Linked DNA regions of Homo sapiens: regions 2, 3, 4, 5 and 6 are each linked to region 1. Evidence: fine-mapped expression QTL. A gene starts in region 1. Each other region holds a variant in brackets. All regions are shown on one strand. Distances are from middle to middle. Region 1 holds the start of LRRC4 (leucine rich repeat containing 4). Region 2 overlaps SND1 (staphylococcal nuclease and tudor domain containing 1). Region 3 overlaps LOC105375490 (a long non-coding RNA gene). Region 4 has its middle 33 kb from the start of MIR593. Region 5 overlaps SND1 (staphylococcal nuclease and tudor domain containing 1). Region 6 has its middle 51 kb from the start of MIR129-1.

What was found.
Region 2: its variant is fine-mapped to the expression of LRRC4 in whole blood (TOPMed, PIP above 0.99).
Region 3: its variant is fine-mapped to the expression of LRRC4 in whole blood (INTERVAL, PIP above 0.99).
Region 4: its variant is fine-mapped to the expression of LRRC4 in blood mononuclear cells (TOPMed, PIP above 0.99).
Region 5: its variant is fine-mapped to the expression of LRRC4 in blood mononuclear cells (TOPMed, PIP 0.91).
Region 6: its variant is fine-mapped to the expression of LRRC4 in whole blood (TOPMed, PIP 0.98).

What each region holds. Positions count from the first base shown.
Region 1 is chr7:128,029,435-128,034,434 of GRCh38, forward strand. LRRC4 (leucine rich repeat containing 4) reads right to left here and starts at 2,003. Exons shown (of 2, transcript NM_022143.5): 1 at 1,479-2,003; 2 at 1-1,306. The coding sequence starts at 1,206. All of the region lies in intron 16 of SND1 (staphylococcal nuclease and tudor domain containing 1), which reads left to right. RefSeq lists silencers at 2,447-2,566, 3,217-3,286.
Region 2 is chr7:127,763,955-127,768,954 of GRCh38, forward strand. All of the region lies in intron 10 of SND1 (staphylococcal nuclease and tudor domain containing 1), which reads left to right. Among named protein-coding and RNA genes, the nearest start is that of SND1, 110 kb to the left of the region's middle. The variant A/G (reference allele first, on the strand shown) is at 2,644.
Region 3 is chr7:127,546,969-127,552,116 of GRCh38, forward strand. All of the region lies in intron 1 of LOC105375490 (a long non-coding RNA gene), which reads right to left. Among named protein-coding and RNA genes, the nearest start is that of GCC1, 36 kb to the right of the region's middle. The variant G/A (reference allele first, on the strand shown) is at 2,392.
Region 4 is chr7:128,111,979-128,117,126 of GRCh38, forward strand. No RefSeq gene overlaps it. Among named protein-coding and RNA genes, the nearest start is that of MIR593, 33 kb to the left of the region's middle. RefSeq lists enhancers at 3,883-4,399, 4,400-4,916. The variant C/T (reference allele first, on the strand shown) is at 2,954.
Region 5 is chr7:128,001,496-128,006,495 of GRCh38, forward strand. The region is part of intron 16 of SND1 (staphylococcal nuclease and tudor domain containing 1); the gene reads left to right. Among named protein-coding and RNA genes, the nearest start is that of SND1-IT1, 6.5 kb to the left of the region's middle. The variant AAT/A (reference allele first, on the strand shown) is at 2,760.
Region 6 is chr7:128,154,040-128,159,187 of GRCh38, forward strand. No RefSeq gene overlaps it. Among named protein-coding and RNA genes, the nearest start is that of MIR129-1, 51 kb to the right of the region's middle. The variant G/A (reference allele first, on the strand shown) is at 3,182.

The DNA.
Region 1 (5,000 bases):
AGAGATCCTTGGGTGGCGGGAGGCGTGGCTGAGCACTGTCCCATTGGGCAGCAACCACTTCACGGAGGACATAGGGGGAGTCCGACACTTAAGTTCTGCCATCCGACCCTCAGAAATGTTGAGGTCTCGAGGTGCGTCCATGATGAAGGGGGCAGAGCACTGGAAGGAGGCCTGGTCCACCTCCACGAGGTAGCGGCCTCGCATGTGCATGGGAGCATGACAGCGGCCACAGCAGGTGGAATTGGTGGGTATATACTCTCGAAGCCACCAGGCTAGCCACAGAATGTCACAATCACAGTTCCAAGGGTTGTGGTGTAGATGCAACTCCACCAGGTACCTCAGCGGGGTAAAGAGGTCATGGGGCAAAGAAGAGAGGTTATTGTGGGCCAAGTTGAGTTCCACAAGTGAAGCCAGCCCGTCAAAAGCATTCCGCTCAATCAGGCTGACCTGTGAGTTCATGACCCAGAGCTTCTTGAGGGAGCTCAGGCCATGGAAGGAGCCAGGCCTGATCTCAGGGAAGTGGTTCCCTGACATCTCCAGCTCCTCCAGCCCCACCAGGGGGGTGAGATTGGGCATGTCTTTAATGTTGCACATGCCCAAGTTCAGATACTTGAGGTTGAACAGCCCCTCAAAAGCTCCCTCAGAGATATACTCCAGCTTCTTGAGCTCCCCCAAGTCCAGGCGCATGAGGGAGGGCACCCGGTTGAAGGCGTAAGAGGGGATGCTTTCGATGGGGTTGTTGCGAAGCCAGAGCTCCCGCAGCTTGGACAGGTATTCAAAGGCCCCGCTAGGGATGACTGTCAGCCAGTTGTCGAACAGCTCCAGGGTGTTGAGGCTGGCCAGGCCGTTGAAGGCCCCCACCTCAATCTGCCGGATGGAGTTCCTGCCCAACTGCAGGACCTCCAGGTGGTGGAGGTGGCGGAAGGTGTCGGCCTGGATCATCTGGATGTTGTTCTCCATGAGGTTGAGGTACCGGGTGTTCGAGGGAATACCCTGCGGGACCTCGGAGAGGCCCCGGCGCGTGCACACCACCTTGCTGAACTGGTTACTGCACGAGCAGACGGAGGGGCAGTTCTGGGGCCCGGCTGAGGCGGCAGCAGCGATGGCTGCACACAGAATCCACACTTGCGCCGTGAGGTAGACGAACGGGAGCAGGATGGCATTCCAGGTGTGGTGGTGCACAGTTACCTGCCACAAGAGCTTCATGGTGTGGCACGTTCATAATTCACCATCGCCTGGGATTTTGGCTCGGAAAGGAGAACCAGCCCTACCCCGGCTTAAGTGAGCTAGGAGCTCCTCTTTCCATCTGGAGAAGGAGGTGGGGAGGGGGCGATTAGAGAGACGGAGCGGATCGGCCGAAAAAAATCCTGCCAAACTCGAGCGGCCCCTGGTCTCCCAACCCACCCTCAAGGCAAGCCCTCCGAAAGCTACGACTCTCCCACACTGCAACCGTCCCCACCCAGTTCGCCGTCACCTACCTCGGAAGGAAGGCAGGAAAGCACTGGCGTGGTGTCCTTAAGCTTTCTCCACGGGAGCTGGGCACCTCGTTCCCATTCCGACTTCTTAGTTTTAATTAACAAAAGGGGGAAGTGGTGGGGGCGGGGAGGGCAGAGGGGAGGGGAGGGGAGGGGAGGGAAGGGGTGGGGGAGACAAAATGGCCTCTAGTAAATCCGGAGCCGGAGCCGGCGAAGCCGCGGAGTTGAGGCGCGCCTGGGAGAGCCAAGGCCCGGCGGGCTATGCAGGTGCATGCCCCCCCCTCCGCCCAAGGAGCGGCGCCACCAGCGCTTCCCGGCTTTGTCCTTGGACCCTGGCACCGGCTCGCTCCAGCCGCGGGGGAAGGCGCTTCATCGCCAAAGTGCGCTCCGGCGGCCCCGGCCCGCTCTGCGGGCCGCCGCCGGAGGGAGTGCGGGGGCGCCCCGAAGCCGCCCAGGCCGCACTCGCTGGATGCTGCGCTCCCTCTCCCGGCGTCGGCCGCTCCGGGCCGGCGGCAGCTGATTGCGGTCGTGAGCTCGCGGAGCGGCGAGAGTTAAGAGGAGGTGTTCGCGGCGCCTTCGCCCTCCCCAGACACACACCCCCTTTCTCCTCGCCTCTTCTCGGAGGGTGGAAGAGACAAAAACGGGGGGTCAGTTCTCCAGTCCGCCGGCTGCCGGCACGCGGGGCGGCGCTCCGTCCGGCCCCCGAGGACCAGCGGCGTGGCGGCTGCGCTCGGACCCGGTCCGCCGGCCGGAGGAGCGCGCGGCGCCCGCGGTCGCGCCCGCACCGCAGGCCCCTTCAGAGAGTCCGGGGGCGGGCGCGGGTCCGGCGGCGGCGGCGGCCGCAGCCCCCGGCGGCGCGCAACCGCCCGTCGCCGCCCGCCGCTGCCCGGCCCCCGGCGCGCCGCCGGCTCCGGCTTTGTGCGGAGGGAGCGAGTTCGCGGCTTCGGCTCCCGGCGCCCTCAGTGGCCGCGCCGCCAGCGGACTGCTGCAGCGGCGTGAGCAGCGGGGGTCGCGGCTGCGGGAAACGCTCCGGAGCCCAGGAACATAGTCCCCGCTGGCTAGCGGCGGCAGCAGCAGCAGCGGGGCCCCTGCGCGCGGCGCCCACCGTCTCCTCCTCGCGCCGGGCTCGCGGTGTTGCAGGCGGCAGCCACGCAGACTGCTCTCTCATCCTTTTGTCCTTCAGTCAGAACGTGAATGTACTGCTGACGCATACTGTTCTGGGAGAAGATTAGCGTGATGCAGTGCTCTTATGTATTAGCGCCGCTCCCCCTCCGTCGCCTGCCTCGCGGGGTTAACGCCGGCGCCTTCCAGCGCCGCGCCGGCCGGCGCCGCGCAGCCCCGCGCCTCCGGCCGCCCGTCTTCCTCTTTCCTCCTTCCTTCCTCCTCTCTTCCTCTCTCCCCCTCCCCCCTCCCCCCTCCCCGGGCCGCTTCCTCCCCGCCCCCTCTAGACGAGCGGAGCGGGGCCAGGGCGAGCGGGCGAGCGAGCCGGAGTGAGCGTCAAGTGAGGGGCCGCGCGCAAGTCGCAGGCGTTCGCAGCTATTTTGGGCCGGTCGGAGGGAGCAGTTGGGTGGCCGCTGATAGGCTGGAGCGGCGCGGGGCTGCGGCGGGAGAGCCCGCGCCGGCCCCCGCCCTCCGGCCCGCACCCGGGGCCCCCTGGCTCTGAAGAGCGGGGCTCAGGGGCCCGGCGGCCCGCGGCGGGGCTGCTGCATTTGGCCTGCCTCTCGCCCGGCCCGCGTCATCCTCACCCCCGCTGACTGCTGACGGGGCGCGGACTCGCGTTCGGAGTTCGGAACTGCGTGGTGGGGACTCGGGGGACGGCGGCCGGGGCCACGAGGCTCCCAGGACCGAGAGCCCGGGCTTCGCTGCTGCACTGCCGCCAGCCCCTCCTTCGCTTTGCCTCACCCCTCCTGTGCTCTCACTGGGGCTTTAAATGAGGGTTTCCTTAATGAGGGTTGCGGGGGCGGGAAACAGTGGCAGGAATGACCAAGTGTGATGAGCTGGGGAATGGCAACCTGGGACAGCACAGAGGCCGGCAGGAAGGATTGAGGTGAACTCCCGGAGCCCACGACACAGCCCGTTCATTCATGGAGCTGCAGCCGCGGCTTCTCAGTCTTCGCTGGCCGGAGTCGCCCCTTGCTCCCCGCTGCCCCCAGAGAACTGGGGGAAGGGAGGCGGGCGGCTGAGCCCCCTGCCCTGTGAGCTCGCCAGCCCTTCCTTGGCTAGGACTCTGAGAAGAACTGCGTAGCAGCCAGGGGTAGCGATTGGGAGTGGGGGTGGAATTCTTGCTCCTATTTCTGGTAGGAGACCCTAAGGCATTTGACAGACTAGTGTAGGAGAAGGGGACTAGGTCAGCTTTTTCCCACCCCCCTGAAAAAAGACTGCCCCTTTCTCTGCCGACTGTGGGTGAGGCAATCTAGCTGAGCCCTGGGAAGCCGGTCCAGTAGAATATAGCATGGTTTAATATCCCTTCCCTTCAAGAGCTGCCTCCAGACTCCTCAACCCACCCCTCTCCCCGTGTGATTTCTGGCAGGCTCGCTTGATAAACCCTCATCACCTGCGCGTGGGCTGTTGCTTAAGAACGAGGAGGTCCCAGATTTCTCAGCTCTCTGGTTTCTACCACACCTATTTCTGAGTATTGTCTTTTGCCCAGTAACCTGAACCTCTTTAAATACGCCATGGAATACTTGAAGTCCTGGAAACGGTTCCTTTGTAGGCAAGTTGGAGTCCCCATTCTTTGCCAAGACCTTTCTGTTATCATTTGCTGTCAAATAATAACCTTGTTAGTTTCTGTTTATTGAACCCTTACTCTGTATTCCACTGCAACCCTATTATTCATTTTATATGAGTCAAACGTTGCCTAGGGTCACTAGTAAGTGATAGTGGATTTGAGCCTCAGCACGTCTCAGATGTCAAGAAACTTGGGTGTGGAAGTGATTCCCCAAAGTATTCTCCTAGTGGGATGAGAACTCAGGTTTCATTCATCCACTTCAATAGTCATTTACTGGGATGCTTATCTACTATGTACTATCCACCATACCAAGAACTTATATCTGTTCTTGTTTAATCTTCATTTACCCAGTGAAAGTAATTGCCACACTTGTCTCCATTTCACAGATGAAGGCACTTAGCTTAGGCAGGCAAATAACTTGCCCAAGGTCACACACTAGAAAGTAACAGAGCCAGCCTTTCCATCCAGCCTTCAAACCCTGAGTCCGATGTTTTCATCACTAACAGGAATGCCCGCTGTGTCTACTCTTCATAGAGTAAATGGTGGAGGCAAGTGGAGGGGGGAGGAGAGAGAGACTGTAGGAAAGTTCAGTGAAGGATGTGTCAGAGAAGTAAGATGAAGGGTAGGAGACGGGCTGAGAAAATGAACTCTCATCAAGAAAAAGAATGAGGGAGACATGGAGGTAAGTCAAACCCTGATACTGGGGTTTAGTTCCATCTGGGCACTCAGACTTTCTGGTGAGAGGTTCTGCTCCTTTATAGCTGGCACCGACCTAGTAGAGTCATCTATTGCCTGAG
Region 2 (5,000 bases), 270 kb before region 1:
CTACTTTGGAGGCTGAGGTGGTTGCAGTGAGCTATGACTGAGCCACTGCACTCCAGCTGGGGTGACAGAGCAAGACCCTGTCGCAAAAAAAAAAAAAACAAAAAAACAAAAAAACAAAAAACCCAAGAGAAAGAAAAGCATAAATTGAAACCTACTGACATACATTGCTGATTCCTATTAATTTCAAATAATGATACAATTTTTTATGGGATAGTATGTAATTCTAAACTGAATATTAGCGATTTCATAAGAGCAAACTGAAGGTTGCCATTGACTTTTTACTTATTGATAATAAAAAACACTTTTTGTTTCTTTTGCCATAGGAGCTATCACCTACCCTGTGGCCATTCCCACACATTATGTGTACTTCCACTTCCACATCTCTTTTGGTTAGCTCCACTGAGTAGGTACAGTGTGTGTGTGAATGCGAAGTATTTTAATAGTGCAATTTGGCTTTTCATGGTCCTTAACTCTGGAAGGAACTCCATGCTCATTAAGTTTGTGGTGTTGCTGTATTGCAGATGCTGCTGAAGGCTTCCTCTGCCCTAGGCTGCCATCTTTAGTTTGCCTGCATAGAGTAGAGTAACAAAACCAAACCAAATCAGAACTTTGACACCGATGTGGCAGGCTGTGCTTATTATCAGAATATCTTTTAATGTTTGTGTATTTGAGTTTTCGTTGAGCTGATTTTCAGAAATGCTGTCTTTTTAAATTTCCCATTTGCATTTCTGTGTCAAAGTAAAGGATTTGGAATCTGAAAAAGAATAATGTCTAACTTGGTACCAAATAATGTTTCCAGGACTGGTTTGAAGGATCAGATGTGAGTTTTTCAAATTGGAACCTTTTCTAATGGGCCCCTGGGAAATGTCTTAGCTAAATTGCAACAGTGACTGGTGAAGTCGATCGAGGTAAATTGCTCCCATTGCTGAGGGTTCAGAAACCAGGCAGTGGAAGCTAAAATTTCAGGGGAAATCGGGCGGAACTATTGCAGATGGTTTCCCCCTTGAATAGAGATGGGGGTTGGTGTCGCTGTTGATGAATGGGAGGAGATTAAAGCCTGATTTTTGCAACGAGTTGGTAACATTCTCTTTGGGAGACTAAAGAGGAATTTATGAGAAGACCATCAGAATCAGTTAGGTGATTATTTTCAATTTTGACTACAAATGACATCTAGGAACACACCATGATGCCACTGGACTCTGTAGTGGTCTTTATTAGAAAAGTAGCAACAAGAGACTTTTTGTGATGTTTACCCTCAGTGAGCTCAGAGGTCGAGGAATTGCCCAGAATCTTGCAGATTTTCATTTAACAGTCAACCATTGAGCATTTCTGATTTGCATTTAAAAAAAATGAACCTGGCTGGTTTTGACTATTTGTGGTGATATGTTAGAATACAGATCCTCATGCAAGTATTTGTGATTGGCACGTCTCACTCAGACATATGTCTCACTCAGACATCTTCTTTGTGTTTGAGGAAGCCCCTTAAGCTCTGTGCACAGTGAGAATAGTAAAATATCACAGAATCGTGTGGCAACATTAGGCCCTTAGTAATTGGTAAAACTTGATACTAACAACATCTGTCTGTCCATTTTTCTCAATCTCTTGTAAGTGCTGAGAGTACTGAAGTAAGGACCAAGCTTTAAATCCTTCAATTAAATATTTCGAGGCTGAGGCCTGGAGAGAATTTCTTGTATTTTAGCTCCCTATGACTCTTGGAAATTCTTCCTTTATAGAAGTTTTAGAAGATTAAGGCCTCCAATTAAGAAAGATAAAGGATCTAATGGCTCCCTTAGCTGATGAGCATTGTGTAACCATCAATTGAATGGGCTGAACTTAATATAATTAATAGGTTTGCAGCACTCCCACACCTATTATAAGATCATATTTTGACCCATTTTTCATTTCTTCTTTATAAGCATTTAGATGTTTATGTGGCATTCACATTTTAATATTCCTTGGATGAACATGGCATCATATGATTAGAAAACCAAAATTCATTTTTGATGGCTGTTGTGGTCAGATCGTGTCCTCTAAAATTCATGTGCTGGAAACTTAATTTCTAGTGTTAACAGTGCCGAGAGGTAGGGGCTTTGGGAAAGTTTAATGGATTAATGCCCACATATAAGGGCTTGTTGGAGGGAATTTGGGCTCTTTGTTGCCCCTTCCATCCTTTCTACCATGTGAGGACGCCACACTCCTCCCCTTTGGAAGATGCAGCAAACAAGGTGCCATCTTGGAAGCAAAGACTAAGCTCTTACCACACATCGAACCTGTTGGTGCCCTGATCTTGGACTCCCAGCCTACAGAACTGTGAGGAAGTTAAGTTTCTGTTATTTATAAAATTACCAAGTCTCAGGTATTGTGTTATAGCAGCATAAATGGACTAAGACAATGCCAAAGGTGGCACTTGCCATAGATCTGCTGTGATGATATCAACTCTTTGCTTTCCAGGAGTTAAAGCTTTGGATTCTGATGGGTTGATTTTCTTTTGTGTGGACCCTTGTACTGGTTACTATTTAATAGTTCTTTTCTTATCTTAGGCCGGGCGCGATGGCTCATGCCTTTAATCCCAGCACTTTGGGAGGCCAAGGCGGGCGAATCACGAGGTCAGGAGATCAAGACCATCCTGGCCAACGTGGTGAA[A/G]CCCCGTCTCTACTAAAAATACAAAAAATTAGCCGGGCGTGGTGGCGGGCACCTGTAGTCCCAGCTACTCAGGAGGCTGAGGCAGAATGGCGTGAACCCAGGAGGCGGAGCTTGCAGTGAGCCGAGATGGCGCCACTGCACTCCAGCCTGGGTGACAAAGCGAGACTTTGTCTCAAAAAAAAAAAAAAAAAAAAAAAAAAAAAATAGTTTTTTTCTTATCTTACCGTCTCCCAGAATTGCTATTGCCAAAATTTGGTGCAACTATGTATTTTTCTGTTTTCCCCACCACTGTTTGTATGTAATTTAGGCTGAGTTCCTCCAGGCTCTGGTGCCTGCGTTTTGTGGTTTGTAAAGTGCTGTGTACTTTTATAGCCTCTATAAATAACAAAATACAGCTCATGGCAATAACACTGTGGCACCCTAGATGTTTAGATATAGTGTGTGTTAGATGGGAAGAGAGAGAGATATATCTAGGGTACAAAGTGGCTAGCTTGCAAAACTTAATCGTCACTTACTCATCCTACTTCTCATTTTTGTTCATTTGTTGATGGCATTCCTTTATCTTTGGGACATTTTATATGTAATGACTAGGTGTGGTGCCGTTCTCCTCTTCTCAGTATCCCTTCCCCCATCCCTTTCCACTGTTTAATGTAGTAGACATGAAGAGGAGAAGAGCTGGTTCACAGTGTGGTGAGATTTCCAACCAGATGCTTGCATGGTGGGGGCCCAGCTTCCTATCCTGGTCTTCCTGTTTTGTTTCAGTAGATCACCACAGCTGCCTTCTTATATGTGGGAGATGTGAAGCTAGGCCCTCGAATCTATTTCTATTAGCCCTGTCAATATAGTTTGATAAAATGCAAATGTCTTTGAAATGGTAGACTTCCAATTAAAAGGCTCCAGCAGGGAGTCTGTTTTGATAATGAAAGTGATTAAGAAGGTTCTATTTTCTTCCATTGGTATGAATGTTCAGCTAAAATAGCTTGGCTTTTTGTCTGTAATTGGACTCTGCTAATGAGGTTCTAATAACTCTTAGGTTCTAATAATGATTCTAACAAATCTATTAATTCTCTTCATTGATCAGTGCTGGGGACCAGAACACAGTCTCTGGATAGCAGTGTCATATAAGGTTGTAAATGTCATTCATTTCCCTTTCTCCTTCATTCTAAAGAATCAATGGAGCAAATGTTTATTTCCTTAAATTCTATAATCTTATATAGATACATCTTACCTCTGAGTAGAGCCAGACATATATGGTATATCAGTACGCATGTTAGGAATTGCCCTCAAACCCTGCAGTTTATATTAGGCCTTGAAGCATTGGTTTTGGTGTGGAAAGAGGGGCTGCAGAATAAACACATTCACAGAAGAAGACTAGGCACCATCTGAAGCCTAATTTTTAGAACGTTCATTCTGTTCAACCCCTTTCCATACGTACCTGTCAGCCCCTGGTAAAACTAGGCTTGATAATTGAATATGCCGCAGCTCTTTAGCCAGCATAATCTGGGACATAGAATAGGTTGGTGGGGGTGAGCTGCCATGGTTATCTCTCACCACCTCATTAGCGGCCTGTCACCTTCCATCTTTCGTTATTAGAGGCAATGTTTGTGTTCTCTGATTTTAATCAAAATCTGTCTTTTAACTGACTACTTTTCTATCTTGTTCACTGTTCATTCTCAAAGGTCCTTATACTTTTCCCTTATAACAAACTTGTGAGGCAGAATTACAAGTAGGAGAGGATTACAAAGGGATTAGAGTGGCAAATACCTGTTTTGGGTATGCTCAGTGACTCAGAATGGCCACCAAACTTGCTTTGTTATGTAAGTTCATAATTTCCATTTATAATTGTGGCCTTGTCAGTATAGCCGTCTGAATCACTGGGGACTTTTATGGAACAGAGAGGTTTTCTATGATCTTGATAGTTGAGGAATGTTTTCAAATGAAGGGATAAAACTGACTAAAAATTTAGAGACGATGAGTCTTTGTGTGAACATCCCTGTGGTTGGAAGAGCCATTTTTCTCAGGTTTCCAGCTTGTATAGATGGTGCTCATATTATCTATAGCTAATCAAATAGCAGAGTTGTGGTTTTTATTTAAATATCAGAATGACAAATTACAATAGAATTATATTTTACCCAGGGGTAGAATCTAAGGTCAGAGTATGAGACGAAAATTGTATATAGTGAAAATTATTCTTGAAAATCCATTTAGTGTCGTTTTATTCAAACTGAAGTGCTTCAGGATGGTCAGATGCATTGTCTAGGATCAGGAACAGTTTATAGTCAAGTCCTTTCTCTTTTAAGTACAATTGGGAGGGGACAGGGCTGGATGGATAACCATCAATATTTAAAGTTATTTCC
Region 3 (5,148 bases), 480 kb before region 1:
GGTCAAAATGATCAACAAGTCTCTAGGAAGCTCCAAACTCTCCCACATTTTCCCGTCTTCTTCTAAGCCCTCCAAGCTGTTCCAGCATCTGCCTGTTACCCAGTCCAAAGTCTCTTCCACATTTTCAAGTATCTTTATAGCAGTACCCCACTCTCTGACATACCAATTTACTGTATTAGTCTGTTTTCACACTGCTATAAAGAACTTCCCTGAGACTGGGTGATTTATAAAGGAAAGAGGTTTAATTGACTCACAATTCCACATGGCTGGGGAGGCCTCAGGAAACTTACAATCATGGCAGAAGGGGAAGCAGGCACCTTCTTCACAAGGGGGCAGGAGAGACAGCAATGAAGGAGGAACTTCCAAACACTTATAAAACCATCAGATCTCATGAGAACTCACTGTTATGAGAACAGTATGGGGAAAACCACCCTCATGATCCCATCACCTCCCACCAGGTTCCTCCCTCTACACCTGGGGATTATAATTCAGATTACATTCAAGATGAGATTTGGCTGGGGAGACAGAGCCAAACCACATCAGAAACAGTTGTACAAGATCAGTAAATCAGTCATGTGAATCTAAGTGCAGTCCAGAGCAATTCAGCATTCTCATGTTAGCTCTCCCTCCCCTTTTCTTCATTCTGTTTAAATAGCATTCCTCATTAAAGTAATAGCACATAAGCCATTTTCATATGCTCTGCATTTTTATTATAGTAACCCAGGCTAAGCAATCAGTTAACTGAAAAAGTAAGGAAGCAAAGAACACACCAGGCATATTTTAATTTAAACATTTTATTTTAACTTAGAATGTTAATTTAAAATGTTTAAGTATGCACTCATTTGCCAACTTTCCAAAGGGGTTTTTTTAAAGATTGGATCCACTGATTAAAGTTCTATATTGTCTTTATTGACTAAATCATATCATTCTGCCCCTGGCCCCTCCCAAATCTCATCTCCATTTCACATTTCAAAAATCAATCATGCCTTCTCAACAGTCCACCAAAGTTTTAACTCATTCCAGCATTAACACATCATTTACAATTTATAGACTTAATTTATTTAAAGTAAAACAATAAATTAAAGTCTCTTTTTAAAGCAACTTGAGTGTATAATTGCTTTAGATATAGATATATAGATATATCTAGATAGATAGATAGATATTTATTCTGATATTTAACAGTGGCCCTACCAATCTCACTTGGTAGCTTTATTTTAATGAATACCTACATTAAGTTGTTACAAAGTATTTGATTTAGTTTTCATAGAAACAAATATTTTTTCAACTAAATTCTCATAGATGAATGTAGTATTTAGTTAAATTACACAATGACAATCAGAAATACAATACACATAATCAGTGTAAGAACAAATACAATTGCTTCCTATTAACATTCAGCTCTGCTGATAAAAACCAAAGGCTATGGTGTCCTAGATCAGTAGTTCCCCAAGTATGTCCCCAGACCAGCAGCATCAAAGTCCTGAGAACTTATCAGAAATGTCAAGTTCTCAGGCCCCACTCCAGACTCACAGAATCAGAAAATCTCGAGGTAATTCTGATGCACATGTAAATCGAGATCCACTGTCCTAGAGAACAGTTTAATAGCTGGGAGTATGCATGTGATGGCCATGATTAGCACACTTTACTAAGGAGATGGAGAGTCTGTTAATTTAACTAGTTTATTGAAGATCAGTTAAAAAAAAAAAAACCACTGTGTTTTAGTTAGCATTAGTTTTGGTTCCATATAATTAAAAAAACTACAGTAGCTTATATGAATATAGTTAACACTGCTGAACTGTATACTTAAAATGGTTAAGATGGTAAATTTTATATTATTTTTACTACAAAAAATAAATTTAATAAAATTAAAAATTTTAATTAAAAAACAGTGGCTGAAACAAATTAGAAATTTATTTATCTTACATCAAAGAAATCCACAAGTAGACAGTCCATGACTTGTAAGGCACTCCACTAAGTGACCAAGGACCCAGGAACCTTCCAGCTGACTCTCCACCATCCCTCATATGGGGCCCTCATCCTCATGGTCCAAAACAGCTACTAGAGCTTCAGCCACTGCATCTACATCCCAGGCAAGAGAAGAGAGCAAAAGAAAAAACAGAGGTACCCCCTCCCTTAAAAAGAGGCTTCACAGAAATCCCATACAACACTTTGTTGCAATATCTCATTGTCTAGTAGTCACTTGGTAATGCAAAGGAGCATGGCAAATGCCTTCTGGCTTGAGGCAGCAGTATGCCCACTTAAATCCTGAGATGCTATTGCTAAGGGAGAAGAGGTGAATAAATACTGGGAAATAATTAGCAGACTCTATCACATATTGTAATTGTAAAATTATACTGGCTGTTACCCAATCCTAAAATGAAGAACTCTCTC[G/A]TGTAAACATTTCTAGACATTGCTGTAGGAAAAATACACACAGATTCAGCTTTTTTAAAAATTCATTAGTTTTTTTAAATGAAAGTGGGAAGAAAAATACCCTTTGCTGAGACCTGTTACATGCTGATCATTGTGCTTTGCATCTGTCCATCACTGATTGTCCATCACCAGGTTTGATGGGAAGTCTATCTTACTTTCTGTGATAAGTAGGATGGGCTAGATTTGATGCAGTAAAAAGAAAACTCACTGGTTACTTGTTAGGAGAGAGATAAGAAGGAAGGGGAATCTTCCCCAGGGTCCCTGTCTTAGTTTAGGCTGCAATAACAGAATACCATAGCCTAGGTGGCTTAAACAACAAACAAGTATTGCTCACAATTCTGGAAGCTAGAAGACCAAGATCAAGGTGCCAGCAGATCTAATGTCTGGTGAGGGCTCTCTTCCTGGTTTAGAGATGGCTGACTTCTTGTTGTATCCCCACACAGCAGGGAAAAAGGTGGGGGGGTTGAAGAAGCCAGATGTCTTGTGACTCTTCTTATAAGGGCACTACTCCCATTCATGAAGGCTCCACCCTCATGACCTAATTACCTCCTAAAGGCTCTACCTCCTCATACCATCATATTGAGTGTTAGGATTTCAACGTATGAATTTAAGGTGGGGAAACACAAACATTCAGTCCATAACAGTTCCTATAAGTCAAAGCAAAAGATATAACCATGCCTAACTTCAGGCAGGTGACCAAGTGCCCAAGGAGAACTGGAAACATTGATGACTAGTAGCCCAGGCTCATTGAGGCCAGAAACAATGTCTTATTAACTTGGTATCTGTCATCTATCCCACATCCTCACAGATCTGAGGGTTCCAGTAAATGTTGAATTGTTTGCTCAATGGAAGTTTAAAAATCCCCTCAAATTATCTTATCAAATCAATCATCTTTCTAGGACCACCCTCCAACCCCACCAAAATTAGCTTATGCAACATTTATTTCTAGAATTCATCCAGGCAGTGAAAAAATTAAAACTTGCTGAAAATTAGATTCTGCCCAACTCCATCACCTGCTACCATCCGGGGGAAGGACTTTCCAAAACAGACCAAGCACCAGCCCTCTAGTGGAAGAAACACTTATTTTGGCTTTTGTGCTGCAGTCCAATTTGATGTGTCAAAATTCTGTCTTTCATCTGCCCTTCTACAAAACAAAACAGTAATAACAAATGTTGTTATGGGAATTAAATTTTTCAGATGATTAGGTTATATAGCAGGATAATCACTTTTGCTTTAATGAAGAATAAAGTATATGACACTGCTGGCATTGTTATTAGAGATTGTCAAATAAATAATTTAAGATGCACTGTTTATGTAAGTCCCTAATTACTTCTGGGATTTGTACAGTAAGGTAGAGTTAATGGTCTTCTCTGTCATTTCCCTTCTAATTGCATAAAATAAATAAGGCGCTCTGTTAAAGAAAAATGGGTAACTAAATCATGATGAGTCAAAACCCACCTAATTAAGACATGAATGCCAGAATTGAGCCCAAAGCTGCTCATGGGCACACTTCAAATCATTACTGGATACCTCAGAAACAAACTGTGCTTAATATACCAGGGGAAATAGCCAGTGTTATCCATCTGACTATCTTCATCAGTACATTCCTGAGCCTCTAATGTCAGAACCTCAACATATTTAGCAATGAAATGCTGGAATTAGATAACTTTACACCATATATGGAAATAAATTGTATTATGTGGGTTTCCATCCAGTTACAGGAAAAAGGGGTCTTGATCCAGACTCTAAGAGAGGGTTCTTGGATCTCACACAGGAAGAAATTCAAGGCGAGTTTCAGAGCACAGTGAAAGAAGCAAATTTATTAGAAACTACTCCATTGCAGAGTAGGGCATCTCCAGAAAGCAGGCCAAGGAACACATCATCTCTGTTTTAAGTTTTTCTTATATGGGGGTCTTGTCTATGTACAGACTAAACTAAGCTGTGACTACATGCAGGTGAGCAGAGAGCATAACAAAATGTATTATTACACTGATTTAAAGAAAACTATCTTTGACATTTCACTGGGTGAGTACATCAAAGCATAAATATAATTATCTTGAAAGCATATATTGTTATGGGTATTAGGACATCTGGACTTTCTGTTGTAGGAATGTGTCCTTGTAGGTTTTCTCAACTATAAACATCTTAGGACCATTGGTGATGACTGGCAAGGAATGTGTCTTGCTAGTTTCAAGATGACCCTGAACTTAAAATCTTGTCACTCTGGCTCTCCTAGGCTCTTGCTTCCCTAATGATCCCACCACTCAACTCTCCAGCTCAATTCTGGATCCATAAACACTCTAAAAAAGAACAACTGGGCTGGGCGCGGTGGCTCATGCCTGTAATCCCAGCACTTTGGGAGGCCAAGGCGGGTGGATCACGAGGTCAGGAGATCAAGATCATCCTGGCTAACACGGTGAAACCCCATCTCTACTAAAAATACAAAAAATTAGCCGGGTGTGGTGGCGGGCGCCTGTAGTCCCAGCTACTCGGGGGGCTGAGGCAGGAGAATGGTGTGAACCCAGGAGGCGGAGCTTGCAGTGACCCGAGATCATACCACTGCACTCCATCCAGCCTGGGTGACAGAGCAAGACTCCATCTCAAAAAAACAGAAAAAAGAAAAACTCGTCCTTGGAGCATTGTAGGCTTTTTATCTTTCTTATGATTTCCTGAATGTGTTTGCTGGTCTGGACTCTGATGCAAGAGGGTGGAGAGAGA
Region 4 (5,148 bases), 83 kb after region 1:
ACAGAGCCCTCACGAACTCATCATCTCCCAAAGGCCCCACCTTCTAACACTGTCACACGAAGGATCCAGTTTCAATGTATGAATTGTATAGAAAACATTCAGACCACAGTCATAAGAATTTCAAGATGAGATCCAGGGTGGGCCCTAAATTCAGCGACTGCTGTCCTTACAGGGGAAAGGAAAGGGCGACGTGAGACACAGGGGAGAAGACTGTCTGAGGAAGGCAGGCAGAGCCGCAGAGATTTAGAGTTATGCAACCCCAGCCAAGAAACACCACAAGCCACCAAAAATTAGAAGAGGTAAGCAATTCTTCCCTAGAGCTTTCCCATAAAGAGAACATGGCCCTGCTGATTTTGCAGAAAAGAGAAACTGAGGCACCAAACTACATCAGCACTCCCTGGGCATGGAAGGCTGGGCGCACAGCAGCACCAGCCAGGGCAGAGACGGTGCTGGAAGTCGATGCCCTGCCTCCCAGCTGAAGCCTTCCTACCGCCTCCCTCGGGTGCTTCCTTTCACTCAGCCCCTTCAGAGCCAGAAGGCGTGGCCCACAGCAGTGTAGGAGTGCCCACGGCCCCGGGACCCCTGGCTGTAACCACACCCTCAGCTGCACCCTCAGGAGACCTTGCCTCCTGCTCCCTCTCCAGCGGCAGCGAGGGCAGTGCCAAGCTCACACCCTCCCAGAAGTGATTTCATGCCCCATAAGACGGGCAATCAAAAATAATAGACACACAGCAACCTGCCTGGGGCCTGCTGCTGCGGCGGGCGGCTGCTGAGGTGGCTACCTGGAAGATAAACCAATTCCCAGCCCCGGTGGGGAGAAATAACAGCATCAGTGAGGAGCAGGAGCTTCATCTTAGTCTGCAAAGCCCCAGCCAATAAGCAGGCTAAAAATAAGCACCTCTCCCAGCTGCAGCAGCACCCTCCCTTTCCTGACATGAGCTGGTCACGTGAGTTTCTCAGACTCTGGTGGGTTTCTCATGTCTAGGCAGGTGTCTGTCTGCTCAGTGGCCTTGCCTCAGATCTGGCTGGGGTGGCCTCAATGTGGGGAGCACAGGCTGCGGAGTGAGCCTAGGGAAAGGGTATGAGGACCTTCTGACTCCTCTGGGCTCCCTGTGGGTCCTTGGCTCGGTCATGCAGCCCCAGACTGCTTCCTGTCTGTGCTGAGCATCTGACTGTCACTGCTGAAGGACATTCTGAGTGCCATGCCAGAGCTGGGCACCCAGGGCCATCTGTCTGCACTTGGCGGGGAGGCACGTGCAGACCCCTCGCTGTGGCTGGTTCTCTGCGGGCACAGTCTGTGATCCACAGAGAGTAGACCCTGGGTGGGCCTGTGTGTCCAGCATGTATTATGTGTGCCTCCAAAAAAATGAGTTGGGAGAGGTGGGGATGGTTAATGGGTACAAAAGAAAATAGAAAGAATGAATAAGACCTACTGTTTGATAGCACAATAAGGTGATTATAGTCAGTAATAACTGAATTGCACATTTTAAAATAAAGAGTGTCATTGGATTGTTTGTAACTCAAAGGATAAATACTTGAGGAGACGGATACCCCATTCTCCATGATGTGCTTACTTCACATTGCATGTCTGTATCAAAACGTCCCATTTACCTCATAAATATATACACCTACTACGTACCCACAAAAATTTAAATTTTTTTTTAAAAGAATGAATCTGGTTTAAAGCAAAACAAAACAAAGAACCAACATTTTAGTAAGGAATTGGGTAAGTGAGGATTCTGCAGAACACCCACCTGGGGTAGGGGTTAGGATGTGGATTTATCTCAATTCTGCTGCCCTTGATGAGAAAACATTTTAATAATGCCTCTTTCGAAAGATAGTCAAAATATGAGCCTCACAGAAATATTCCTTAATTGCTTCTTGTCACACACTGCATGAACTCTCAGGGGGACCTTTTGGCCCCCTCACCTTGGGATCATGCACACCCAGGCTCCCACTTGAGCCATGTCCTTGGTCCAGCTGGCTTCAGGTTTGCAACGTCTCTTACCTGGAGAACCGCCAAAGTCTCCTCACCATCTTCCTGCCTTCAGTCGCTGTCTTCCTCCCCTTTGGGAGTTAGTCAGTCCACTCTCCAGCTTAAAAAAGTTCAAAGACTTCTCCCACTGCTGGGCCTGACCCTTTCTAATCTGTGGCCAACCTCCTGCTTCACCCATGCCTGCTCACGCACCTTGTTCTTCAGCAAAGGAGACTGCATGGAGCCCACTCAATGCTCCTCATTTCTTCTTGCACCCTATGCCTTTGCTAAACATGGTCCCCACTTTCTAGAACACCCTGTCCACCTTCGTTGTCTCTTGAAATTCTACTGTATTTTCAAAGCCCAGCCTGTGTGTTACTCTCTATCCCCAATTCTTCTCAGAGAAGAATTGGCCACTCCCTCTCCTTGGGTCTCCCTAGCACTTTCCACGGTTTTGTCACAGTGCCTGCATTTCTCGTTATTGTTAGTTTCATGTATATCTCCATGGCTGGATGGCTCAATCCTGAAGGTCCGACAGAAAACAGTGCCTGGCACATAATAGGTGGCTAATAAATGAAGCCAAACTGCAGTTGACCTGCAGACCCGTGATACAAATGCTTTTTATTGCAAGCCACTGAGATTTTTGAGAGTGCTTTATTACACAGCCTTATCAAGCCAAGAGCTGACTGAGACAAATTGCCCAGGGAGCCTGGGGCAATATGGGACTGCACACTTAGCACTGGCAGAACGCTATTCCAAAGGCATGGTGGGGCTGAGTGCCGGTGTTAGGTGTGAGGTAAGGTTGCTCTTGACATGGTGGTAGAGGGCTGATGTCATGTCAGACCACCCAGGTTCAAGTCCTGGTGCTGCCACTTGCTGCTGTGTGTGTGTCTCTGATAGAGTTACCCTCTCAGCAACTCATTTTTCCTTGTCTATAAAATATGAATCATAATACAAGGATCTGTCTCACGGGGTTGT[C/T]GTGAAAAACAGGGGAAACCATGCCGAGCCCAGTGCCTGGCACACAGTGGGGGCTCCATGAGTGTCTGCTCTCAGTGGTCATGCATCGTTAGGAGTGACTGTCATTGGCTCCTCCCTCCCTGTGTCCAGCCTGCCTGCTCCCTGCCCAGTTCTGTGCAGGGTGTGCGTGTCTGTCGAGAGAAGCTCAAAGTGGGGGATGATGTTTCTCTGTTCATTTTCCATGTTTCCTCCTGAACTCCAGTGTTTCACAAGGGGCTGGTAGCGGCCTGTCCTGTCTTCCCCTAGAACTGCTCAGCATGGCTCCAGCTGTTCTCCGTAGAGCGAGGATAGGAAGTCACATCTCAGAAAGCAAGGGATGGGGACAGCAGTGACAGTGGTGACTTCATTCTCCCGGCTCTTACGGGTCTTGTGGACCCACTTCCAGGACCACCAGTTTCTAGAGATGGACAAGAGTCTTGAAGTGTCCACAGTCACCTCCGTGTCGGTGACATCGGCAGATAGTCATTCTAACCACATTCCCAGGAAACGGGGACTGTGGGGATTCAGGGATGGGGTGGCATAGACTCCGCCTTCTGGAAGCTTCTGGTCTGGCTAGGGTAGCCCGAGGGACATAGGAAATAGCTGAGTGAGTCATAGCATCGTGTACTGACAGGACTCTTGAAACTTCCCAGCCAAATGTCCCTTGAAAAAGGGACACCAGAATCTCCCAGGAAACACCTGCGAGGCCTGGCACGATGGCAAGGGCTTGAATAAATGAAAAGGGTGGCTGAGCTGCCTGGGCTTTCCTGGGCTTGCTGCTGTCCTTCTCCTGATGATCCACCCTGTGGAAAGCTGCAACTGTCCCATTGCCACCAAGGGACCACAGCGGCTGTTCTTTCACTGGCTCTTCCTGGGAGGGAGCAGCCCTCCCCAGCAGCCTCCTTCCAGGCTGGGTGGCAAATGGCTCCCAAACAGAAAGACCCCTCCTGAGCTGCCATTTCCCAGGGATCTCAGCGCCCCAAAGCCAGACATGGGGAGGAGGGAGGAATCAGCTCCTGTAGATCTCTGATGCTGGCATGAGTGGGCAAGCCCCCAGCTCCCTGGACTCCTGCCCCTCTCTGCAAATGCAGGAGGAGATAGGATGATGGCAGAACATCTGGGCTGGAAGACTGTCAGGCGAGGAGAGTGGGGCATCTGAACAGACAGGTTGAGTAGCTTGCCCAAGGCCACACAGCTGGTGAGTGTTGAGGCCTGTTGCTAGGTGCTCAGTAGATTCCCCCGGAGTGACTGGAGGTGGGAGCATTAGAGGCAAGACTAAGAGAGCCTTGGGAAGGAGACAAAGAGAGACACCTCCAGGCAATCTAAATGGACTAACACCAACAGAGGCACCTGGAGCTGAGAGCAGATGCCAGGCCAGGGGAGATGGGCTAGACACGGAGGCGGAGGAAATGCTCTTCTGAAAATGATGTTGAAGGGCAGAGAAGAGAAGGACCCTAGAGAGACAGATGGAGAGGAATCAACAGATGGGCCCGCTGTCCCGCAGGGCGACGGCCCTCTCGCCACGCGGCCCCTAAGCTTGAAGGGAAGCATGTGGGGAATTCGCAGTGTGGGGGATGGGGCAGTGAGGGCCGCATCCTGACCAGAATTGCCCAGGCTTCTGGTGAGAGGAACCAAGTGCAGCAGGGGCTGCTGGCCAGGCCTGGGAGCCGAGGTTTTGGCTGCCACTTGCCTACCACGGACACCCCCCACCAAAATGCCTCTCTTTGTCAGGACCAATAGACACAACCTCAGGGGCCATTTTTGAAGGGTTTCAAACCACCTGGGCAAGTTCCTTCTGTGGGTGGGCAGCCCAGACAGCAAGGCTGGGCACAGCTGTCCCACCCAGCATGGCCATGCAGCCTTGCGAAGGCAAGGGCACAGGCTCCTGTCACGCCTGACAGCTGTGGCTGGTGTGGGGTGGGGAAGGCCAGGCAGGACAGGAGGGCAGCAGCAGGCCAAGCCAGACCCCTGAGGCCTGTGCTTGCAGCCTGTGTCCCGACCTCACAGTGTCCTGGGACCATCCAAGCCCACTCACTCCTGTCTGGCAGCCAGCCTTGGATGTCACAGAGCACCACGCCCCATGTCCTCGGCCAGCACCACCGTCCGGCCTCGCCAGCCACAAAGGGCCGCCCAGGTTTGATGGGAGGGGACATTGACTCAAGGTCACACTGTAAAAA
Region 5 (5,000 bases), 28 kb before region 1:
CTAATTGCCTCACCTATGTAAGGAGGGTACCTTCTCACTAGGGTTACTGTGAAAATTAAGTGTATGTGTAAACTGTTCCTCACAACCCAAGATATTAAACACTCAGTGAATGGTAGCTTACAGCATCATTTTTATTATTAATAGAAATTCTCTCAGCCGGGCACAGTGGCTCACGCCTGTAATCCCAGCACTTTGGGAGGCCAAGGTGGGCCGATTACCTGAGATCGGGAGTTCAAGACCAACCTGACCAACATGGAGAAACCCCGTCTCTACTAAAAATACAAAATCAGCTGGGCATGGTGGCACATGCCTGTAATCCCAACTATTTGGGAGGCTGAGGCAGGAGAATCACTTGAACCCAGGAGGCGGAGGTTGCGGTGAGCCAAGATCGCACCACTGCACTCCAGTCTTGGCAACAAGAGCGAAACTCCATCTCAAAAACAAAAAAAAATAAAAGAAATTCTCTCAGGGCTTAACTGAAATTTAGGACTTGAACTTCAGTATGTACAAAACCAGAGTAGAGTTCTAGGCTGGATCTAGGTATGTGTGTTGTGAGCAGCATTCAGATTAGAATCAACAAAGAACAACCCTCCCAGTGCTCTTCACTCCCCCAGCCTGTCTAAGCCAGTGATGGCACATATGCATATGCTACCCCTATTCGGGTTGTCCACCCATGGCAGACATTGCCAGTCAGTCACCGCGCTGCTTTGGCTGAGGGCTCAGATCCTTCTCAAAACAGGGATCCTCGCTACTACTACCAGTTGAGAGGATTTGGCACTTAACGGAAACCTATTTTCCATCCTTGGTCTAAGTTTGCAAAGGATTATTTATTTAAGTACCCTCAGGACATCAGCCAGTCTTTTATTCTGTGAAGTAAAATAACATAAGGTCTCTTTGTCTCTGATTCCTCATGGTCCCACACATTAGGCAGTATTACATTCAGTGGAAAACCAAAGGTCTGGAGATAATGCCAGCAAGTCCTAACCTATGCAAGATGCCTTTTCTAGACTTGGCTATGGACTGATAAGGTGATCACCAAGGGAGGGGTGACACCAGGACTCCACACATACCTCATGGATGTCTAAGGAATAATGGTTTGACCATCTTTGCAGTGTTCTCCACTTGCCATAGGGGTATTTGGAGACTAATCTGCCAACAGTGAGGGCTCTCTGCTTTTTCTGTTGATGCAGGTCCTCTGTGACATTGTCACAGCAACTTGAAAATGAGGGATACGGGTATGAACTAACTAGATCCTGGCTGGTACAGGCTTCCTTATCCTCTGACAGAATAGCAGTGCTCCTTTGTGTCTCCATACTTTCCTACCATGACCACAACAATCCAGGATTGCCATAGATTTGTCCTTGACCTGCATTAAGTTGAAGAGTTGGAAGATAGATAGCACAGTGCCAGCAGAAGCACTAAAGAAAGAACTAGGTGGTAACACAGGCTGGGCACAGTGGCTCACACCTGTAATTCCAACACTTTGGAGGCCGAGGCAGGGGGATCACATGAGGCCAGGATTTCAAGACCAGCCTGGCCAACATGGCGAAACCTTGTCTCTAATGAAAATACAAAAGTTAGCCTGGTGTGATGGCACATCCCTGTAGTCCCAGCTACTCAGGAGGCTGAGGCCAAGAATTGGTGGCAGAGGTTGCAGTGAGCCGAAATCGTGCCACTGCACTCCAGCCTGGGCAACAGAGCCAAGACTCTCCAAAAAAAAGAAGAAAAAAATGAAAATGAAAAAGAAAAATCTAGGTGTTAAACAAGACTGAAAAGGATAGGAAAAGGCCTCCAAGAAGAAGCGTTTGGGTCACTGTAGCAAGAACAGGTACCTCTTGAACCGAGAATGAAAGAAGGAACTGGAAACTGCTTCACTGTGCTGTTTTCCTTTTCAGCTTAACATATGCCTTCCTCTTCTCCCCTTTCCCTTCTCTTGATGCAGTCGAATTCTTTTTAATGGTTACCAGAAAAGGATTTGGCATTGGGTGTACAGCTAGAGGTGGAAGATCATGCAAATAAGACCAACAGGTCCCTCCATTCCCCACCAGCAGCCTGCATGTGCCATTTCACTTCACACATCTCTATAATGCTTGCGGTGCTGGGGTGCCGTTACCTCTCCAGTTAAATAAATCTCAAACCACCGACCCAGGGTTTTCATAGCAGTGCTGCAGCCATATATGAGGAAATGCAACAAACAGTCCATTAGCACTGATTGGATATGGATTTTTGGCCTGGCCACCTGCCACTTGGTAATTTTAGAATAGGGTCACTTTTGGAATTGAAGATGCCTTGTGGGAGGGGACTGGTGTTTGCTAAATAGCTGTATCTTACCATCATGCCCTTTCACAGCCAAGCTCCCTACCTCTGGAGTGAGGGGCTGGTCTCGTGGCCTGCCTGGCAGAGAGGGCTAGAGCTCCTTCTTCATCAGCTTCCAGGGCTGCAGACGTGGCCATTTCCAAACACCCAGGGTGCACTTAACCACTTCCTCCTCCTAATCTCAGCATTTCCACTCTAACACATCAGCAGCTTTGTAACTTACTTTCTTTTTTTTTTTTTTTTGCCCTATGTTTTGGCCCTTGATGTATTTGTGGGAGGAAGATGGGTAGACTGGCTAACTGTGATATCAACTGATTTCTGAATGATACAGTTATACCCTGAGTCAGTTTCTGGAGATTAAGCAAGGGTGCCAGGAGCGTTGTGAAGGGCTCTCATTGTTTTTACATGTCAGTGACTGCCTGCCTTGGTTTTGCCAGCTGCAA[AAT/A]GGAAGAACTAAGCCCTCTTTTGCCTAGAGAATGCTAAAAGGTGAATACTCAGGTGTGGTGGGGAGGTTTCTAAGGACACCCAGACCCCAGATGATGCACTAAGAGTGCTGTGTGACCTGAAGAGGGACCTCTGGTCAGAACATTTTTTTCTGTCACCAGCAACTGAATAATTATGCCCAGTTGGTAGAATAGGAGAACTGTTGGCCTGGGACCCTGAGATCTGACCATGATGTTCCCCATTGGACTAAACTTTGGCCAATATTTCCTTTTCTCTATGCCATGAAATCTTTTGCATTGCCTTTTTCTGGACATGAGTAGAGTACTGACTTTGGCTTCTGATAAGCAGCATATCCTAAAGAGAATCTGTCCCAGAGGACTTAGGGGTTCCTTCAGTCTTTGCCGCTCTGGTTGCACTATTCCTGAGCTAAAGATGAAAACAGACATCAGATGTTCATCTTTGTGTTATGGGTTGTTATCCCCAGCCATCATAACCGTGTGTCTTATTTCCTGGTTGTCTGCATAAGGCCGTATTTACATAGAGTTTGCAATCTTGCCTGTGTGGTCAGTATCCGTTTCACCCTAGGTTTACAGCCAGACCTCTAACATTTGGACCCAGGCCTCTGATATTCATGCCATGTCTTTTGCCCAGAGTGTTTAAAAGGACAGGCCTGTGCCCTAGCTGCCGTAATCTTTGTTATTTTCAAGTACGAAGCAAGATAGCTTTGCCTTATTTGCTGTCTGTCTATATTTTCTGGGCATGTCAGCCAGGGAGTGAGGTTAGTAAGGTATAGCTAGAGATTGCCCTTGAAGCTTTTGATTCTTGCTTTCCTGTCCAGAATTATAGTCAGTTGTTGAGATAGCCTATCCCAACACCACTAACGTGTGACAACTTCAAAAATTCATGAGGCCTTGGGATTCACAGCACCTCTCAATAATCTAGCCTTGTATCAAGCGAAGTAGCCCTGTTGGAGCATTGCCAGCATGTGAGGTGCAGAGGGGCCCTCCGTAGCCAGCCCTTCAGCCCTTCCAGGTGTGAGAAAGGGCTCTTCATGCCACACTCACATGTGCACCCACGCATGCCTAACACCCAGTGACTGGAAGACTGCCTCCAGGGAAATACATGCAGGCTTACACCGCCCAGACAGTCTTTCATCTGTCCTTCCTCTTTCATTCTTTCACCCGCCCCCTTGTGTTTCTGTAATTTGTACAGTATCGTTGAAAGGTGTTGAAGAGATCAATAGCAATTCACCTTTTCCCTTATTGATTCAAGTGATGGCAAGAAAAAATGGCAGGCAGTACCAATTCATTTGTCATGAGCTATCCATTTCCTACCAAGCCACCAGTGACCTCTCCCAATGCCTGTTAGGTTGCTGATTTACAGTTGGGATTACTTCTTTTTCCAACCTGCTTTGATAGGAATGAGAGAACCACTGTGTTTGACTCCTGTAATCAAAGCTGGGTGAAGAAGGAGACTGCAGGTACTGAACAGGAAAACTGCTGTGGAGCCTGGTCTCCAACTCCGAGGCTTGCTTTATTTGAGGAGCTCCCCACCTGTGCTGGGCTCTCTAGCAGAGGCAATACGGCATCAGCTGATGGAGCTGCAGTCTCCCCCAGCACTTCTCAAGTCCCCACCCCCAGCCCCCGACCTTTTTCTAAAGGACACAGCCTTCCTTTGTTATCTTTTTCCACAGAATGTAAAATGAGTGTGCTGAGTGAAAAGTCCATGACCCCTGTGAACTGGCTCTGCTTTTGCCAAAGGTGCAAAGGTTTGTCATTCCCTTCATGAGCCTTCAAGTAGTAACTTCAGCTGACCCTGGGGGAATGTGAGGTGCCCAGGGTCTGGCCTTAGCAGGGCTGTGGGTGAAGGAAGTGTTCTTGTTCTTAGAGGGTTCTGTATCCACCAGGAATGTAGAGTGGAGACAGTTCTTCTCAGCTTCTTTTTCTGCCCTAGAGAAACAAGCATGGGAAGGGTGCGTGCGTGCGTGCGTGTGTGTGTGTGTTCAGCCTCACTGGGAACAGTATCTTGACTTTCACTTGGAAAAGGTAATGGTGGATCCTTGTGTGTGTGTGCGTGCATGTGTGTTTTGACCAGCCTCACTGGGAACAGTCTCTTGACTCTCATTTGGGGAAAGGTAATGGGGTATCCTCCCCCCACCTCCCAAATAGGACAGTTAGCTGCCACACACTTACATGCACATTTTAAAAACTGTGCATTGCGAATGGCAAATATGTATTAGT
Region 6 (5,148 bases), 120 kb after region 1:
GGATCGGCCTCACCTATTCAGAAGGGCCTTCCCTGTCCACTCCTTCCCTCAGCCATTCTGTCTCAGTCCCTGTTTATTTCCTTCATTGCACTTTTGTCCTCATGCTTATTGTCTGACACCCCCACCAGGACATAAGCTCCATCTGGGCAGAACATTTATTAAATGCTCAATGAATGTTTGTTGAGGAATGAATGAATGAGGCCTTTCTTAGCCTAGGAGTTGTGTATCTATTTCCCTAGAAGGGAGACTTCTGTATCCTAGATTGAAATAATTTCCATCAATTCCGGCTGGGTATGGTGGCTCACATCTGCAATCTCAATACTTTGGGAGGCCGAGGTGGACAGATTGCTTAAGTCCAGGAGTTGGAGACCAGCTTGGGCAACATGGTGAAACCTTGTCTCTACAAAAAATACAAAAAGTAGCTGGGCATGGTAGCATGCATCTGTGATCCCAGCTACTTGGGAGGCTGAGGTGAGAGGATCACTTGTGCCCAGGAGTCAAGGCTGTCTGCAGTGAGCTGTGATCATGCCACTGAACTCCAGCCTAGGCAACAGAGCTGGACTCTGTCTCGGAAAAAAAAAAATCCCATCAGTTCCTCCTCAGTGTTTTACTCTCCTCTTGCATTCACTGCTGTTATTAACCACCAGGAGTTCCTTTTCCAAATGTGTTGTCAGCCTTAAGGTCATTATGCAAGGAAGCAAGGAGACAGCTGCAACTTAACCAGTGTAAGGAAGAAAGGTTTCCCCTTCTCAGCAGGTGAAGGGGCCCCTTTCTTCTAGTATAAAAAGCCCCAATCTGTATTAACAAAAAAGATTAGTCATGTCAACATCCAAGTTTAGTGACTGTCACAAATACAGAAAGTTTCAACTCACCTATTTTTCTAAGTAACAGGAAACAGCCTCAGCTAATAAATACAACAGACAGCAATGTACACACGGTAAGGCTGGGGTGTAACTATTTGAAAGGCTCAGTCACCAGGCCAGATTGGCTAGATTATGCTGCAAAACAAAGCAATAGCCAAATCTCAGTGTCTGAAAACAACCCAGGTTTGTTTTATGCTGTCATTACACCTCCATCAGGGGCTGACAGGGCCATCGGACACGGGGACACTCAGGGATTCAGGACGGTGGAGCAGCTGCATCTTGAATGTTGCCGGTTGCCGTGCTGGAAAGAGACCTCTGGATGTTCTCACATCAGCAGCTGGAGGAGTGCAGGGGGCCAACCAGATCAGTGATGTGGGCCCAGCCCCAATCACAAGGGACAGGCCATGCAATCCCGTCTTGTGCCTGGAAGGCAGAGAGGAGAGGGCTGGGAGTATTTGATGAACGGCAGTAATGACAACCACACAGTGGGAAGAAAATGCATTCCCTTTAGAGGCAAGACAAGACCGGGGTAGGAGAGGAGAGGGCGAGAAAGATGGGAGCTGGGAAAGTAAGATCTTGTAGGTGCTTCCACAGCCACCCACCACAAGTCCTGTGTCACTGTGGCTAACAATCTGGTCACGTGCTCTTGTTCAGTTGAGCTGTAAATTCCTGTGTGTCATCTATTGTCATGGTGTTTGAAAAGCTGATTATGCACTATTCGTAGCTCTTCAACTACTCTTTGCTCTTAAACATGTATAGCACCCTTCTAAATAGGTAAGTTACCGCAGTCCTCCTCAGGTAAGATTATCCTCCAAGCTCTTGCTTCAGTGAGCAGAGGCATATAATTGCTGGGGACATACCAAGCTGAGACATGAACTCCGTAACAAACAGTTGCACACATTTCACACATGGTAGCTTTAAAGACTGTGAATGAATCCAAGACGACTCCGATGTTCTTCAGGGCTAACCCTAAGACCTCTTTTCAATTCATGTCCAGTTGGGTCAGTATCTTTGTTTGCATCAGTGCTGTCTAACAGAAACTTCTGCAATAATTGCAATATTCTCTGCACCATCTAATGTGGTAGCCCCTAGCCACACCAGGCTACAGAACACTTGAAATGTGGCTAATACCACTGAGGCACTGCATTTTTCATTTTATTTATTTATTTATTTATTTTTATTTTTATTTTTATTTTTTTTGAGATGGAGTCTCACTCTGTCGCCCAGGCTAGAGTGCAGTGGCACAATCTTGGCTCACTGCAACCTCCACTTCCCAGGTTCACACCATTCTCCTGCCTCAGCCTCCGGAGTACCTGGGACTACAGTCACCCGCCACCACGCCCGGCTAATTTTTTGTGTTTTTAGTAGAGATGGGGTTTCACTGTGTTAGCCAGGATGGTTTCGATCTCCTGACCTCGTGATCCACCCGCCTCGGCCTCCCAAAGTGCTGGGATTACAGGTGTGAGCCACCGTGCCCTGCTATTTTATTTAATTTTAAATAATTAAAATTTAAATAGCCACATGTGGCCTGACGTGGTGATTTAAGCCTGTAATCCTAGTACTTTGAGAGGCTGACGTGAGAGGATTTTTTGTGCTCAGGAGTTTGAGACCAGCATGGGCAACACAGTGAGACCTCGTCTCTACTAAAAATCAGGACAATCAGCCAGGTGTGGTGGTGCATGCCTGTAGTCCCAGTTACTTGGCAGGCTGAGGCGGGAGGATCTCTTGAGCCCAGGAGGTCAAGGCTGCAGCAAGCTGTGGTCACGCCACTGTACTCCAACCTGGGCAACAGAGTGAGACCCTGTTTCAAAAAAATAATAATAATAAGATAAAATAAATAGCCACATGCAGCTAGTGGCTACCATATAGGACAGTGCAGCTTTGGAGTAAGAAGGAAAATCAGAGCTTTGTATTCAGCCCTATCTTTGCTATGGCAAGAAAAAGATAGCTGTGTGCCAGGAAGACCAATGTAAATGCCGGCTCTGGTGTGTTTGGTTCCAACATTTTCTTGTGACTTACACTGCCCTGCTCACAGTCTCCCATCCAGGGAAGGTGTCTAGACTGTTCCTTGCAGAAGAGTGGCCTCTAATTGGATAGAGAGGTGGACTGCTGACCAAAAGGCATTCTTCTATTCACCGGTTGGCCAGAGTGAAAGAAGGTGGCCTATGATGGTGTCTCTGAAGGGAGCAGTGATGATTGGCTGAGTCTATCAGGTTGCTTTCTTTAGAATTTTTAAAGGTTTAGCCAATCAGCAGTGAGAAGAGAGAAACAGAAACAAGGAAATTATGGCTGAGAGACCTGGGTCCCTGACTGCTGTC[G/A]TGTCTTAATCCCAGCTCCCAACCACCTGTAACCCTAAACAAACATGCAAATAAAATACCCTTTCCCTTAAGTCGGATGGAGGGACTGCTTGCTCTTTGTTTCAAAAGAAATTAAGTAACTAAGATTCCTCCAACTCAGGGTATCTCAGCCTGGGCACTATTGACATTTGGGGCCAGATAATTCTTTGTCGTGGGGACAGTCCTATTAATTGCAGGATGCCCAGACATCCCTGGCCTCTACCCACCAGGTGCCAGTAGCACCCCACACCCACCCACCACCAGTTCTGATAACCAAAAAATGCATCCAGACGGTGTCCAATGTCCCAGGGTGGGAGTGGATGGGAGCAAAAATCTTCCACCCTTGAGAATCAGTTCTCTAACTGTATCCCAAATCCACCTCCTCGGGCCTTCTTAGGAGGAAAAGATAAGAGCAGCAGTTTATTCCTAGCAGAATCACAGCTCTCCCTCCTTCTCTTCTCCAGGCTAAATAAAGATAGCTTTTTTAGTCTTTTTCCTAGACTCTGTTTCACAGATACTGATGGAGACATCTAAAGATGAGACTTGGAACCATTTGGTTGGGAGGGACTCTTCTCTTACTGTACCTATTTATAGAGCCGGGGGTGGGGTGGGCAGAAACATCTGTGCAGCCCTGTGACAGTGGAAGCTCCCTGGTCAAGGAAGTGGCCGTGCTAGAAAGGAGCATCTCCAAGCTCCGCACTGGGCTGAGTGGCAAACGGCTGATTTATAAGAAGTGGGGAAGCGATCCTCTGAGGCCAGCAGGAGTTGTCTCTTACCATCCCTCGGAGCATTCCAACTGTTTCGGGGCTCTCTCCACTGGTATTCTCAGGGACACCTCAAACTAAATCAAAATAGAACTGCTTGTCTTCTTTCTCAGATCCATGCTTTTGCCAGTATTTTCCACTGTGGCCACCCACTTTCTCAAATTGAAAGTCCGAGGGTCTCCTTGTCTCATCCCTCTCCCTCACTGTCACATCTAACCCAACACTGAGTGCTCCAAATTCTTCCTCCTTGAATCTGCCCCTCCCTCCATTCCCTCCACCATGATTTTTGTCCCTGGATTATTTGATCAGCCTTTGAACTATTCAAATTGTCTCATTTCTCCCCTGCTCCCATCCACTCTGCACACTGCAGCCAATATGATCTTTAAAAAATGTATGAATCTGTTTCATGCCTGTTTAAAACCCTCCAGTTGCTACCTATTGTCTTAGGATGAGATCAGAAGTTCTCAACAGTGCAAGGCTCCCCGGGATAGGCCTGCTCTGCATCCAAGTCTCACCTCCTTTCACTCTTCCTCCCAAGGGATCGCTCCAGCCCCCATGGTCTTTGTTCAGCTCCTCAAAGATGCTATGCCCAGTGTGGACTCAGGGCCTTTGCACATCCGGGCTCTGTGCACATCCATCCTCCATCTCCTCCTCTGGAGAACTCCTAGCTATTCTTCAGGTCTCTTCAGTTTAGATCACCTCCTAAGAAGACCTTGCTAAGGAGGCCTTAGGAAGTCCAACCAGGTTCAATCCCCTTGTCATACCCTCTCGTAGAACCATGTAATTTTATTGTCTAAAGTTAGGTCCCCCCAAAACAAAGTATGGGTTAAAGACTTGAGAACAGGTCATGTATTGGAGATGCAAGCACAGAAATCAAGAGTACAGAAATGGGGAGAGATGGAGAAGGAGGAGAGGCCCGTGGAAGGGAAGGGGGTGTTACTAAGGTTGCTGGGTTTACAAGGAGGCTGACTACTCCAGGACTCTCTCCTGTCATTTCCAAGAGGGCTCACACAGAGTTGGAGAAGAACCCGGGGCAGGAAATGAAAACCTGTCAGTGCACAAGCTTCAAGGGGGCGACTTATGGCAAGCGATGAATTTGTGCTCATGCGGGACTGTCCACCACAGCCATGGCCGAAATCAGAGGTGGGTCAATGGCTGGGCATGGTGGCTTTTGCCTGTAATCCC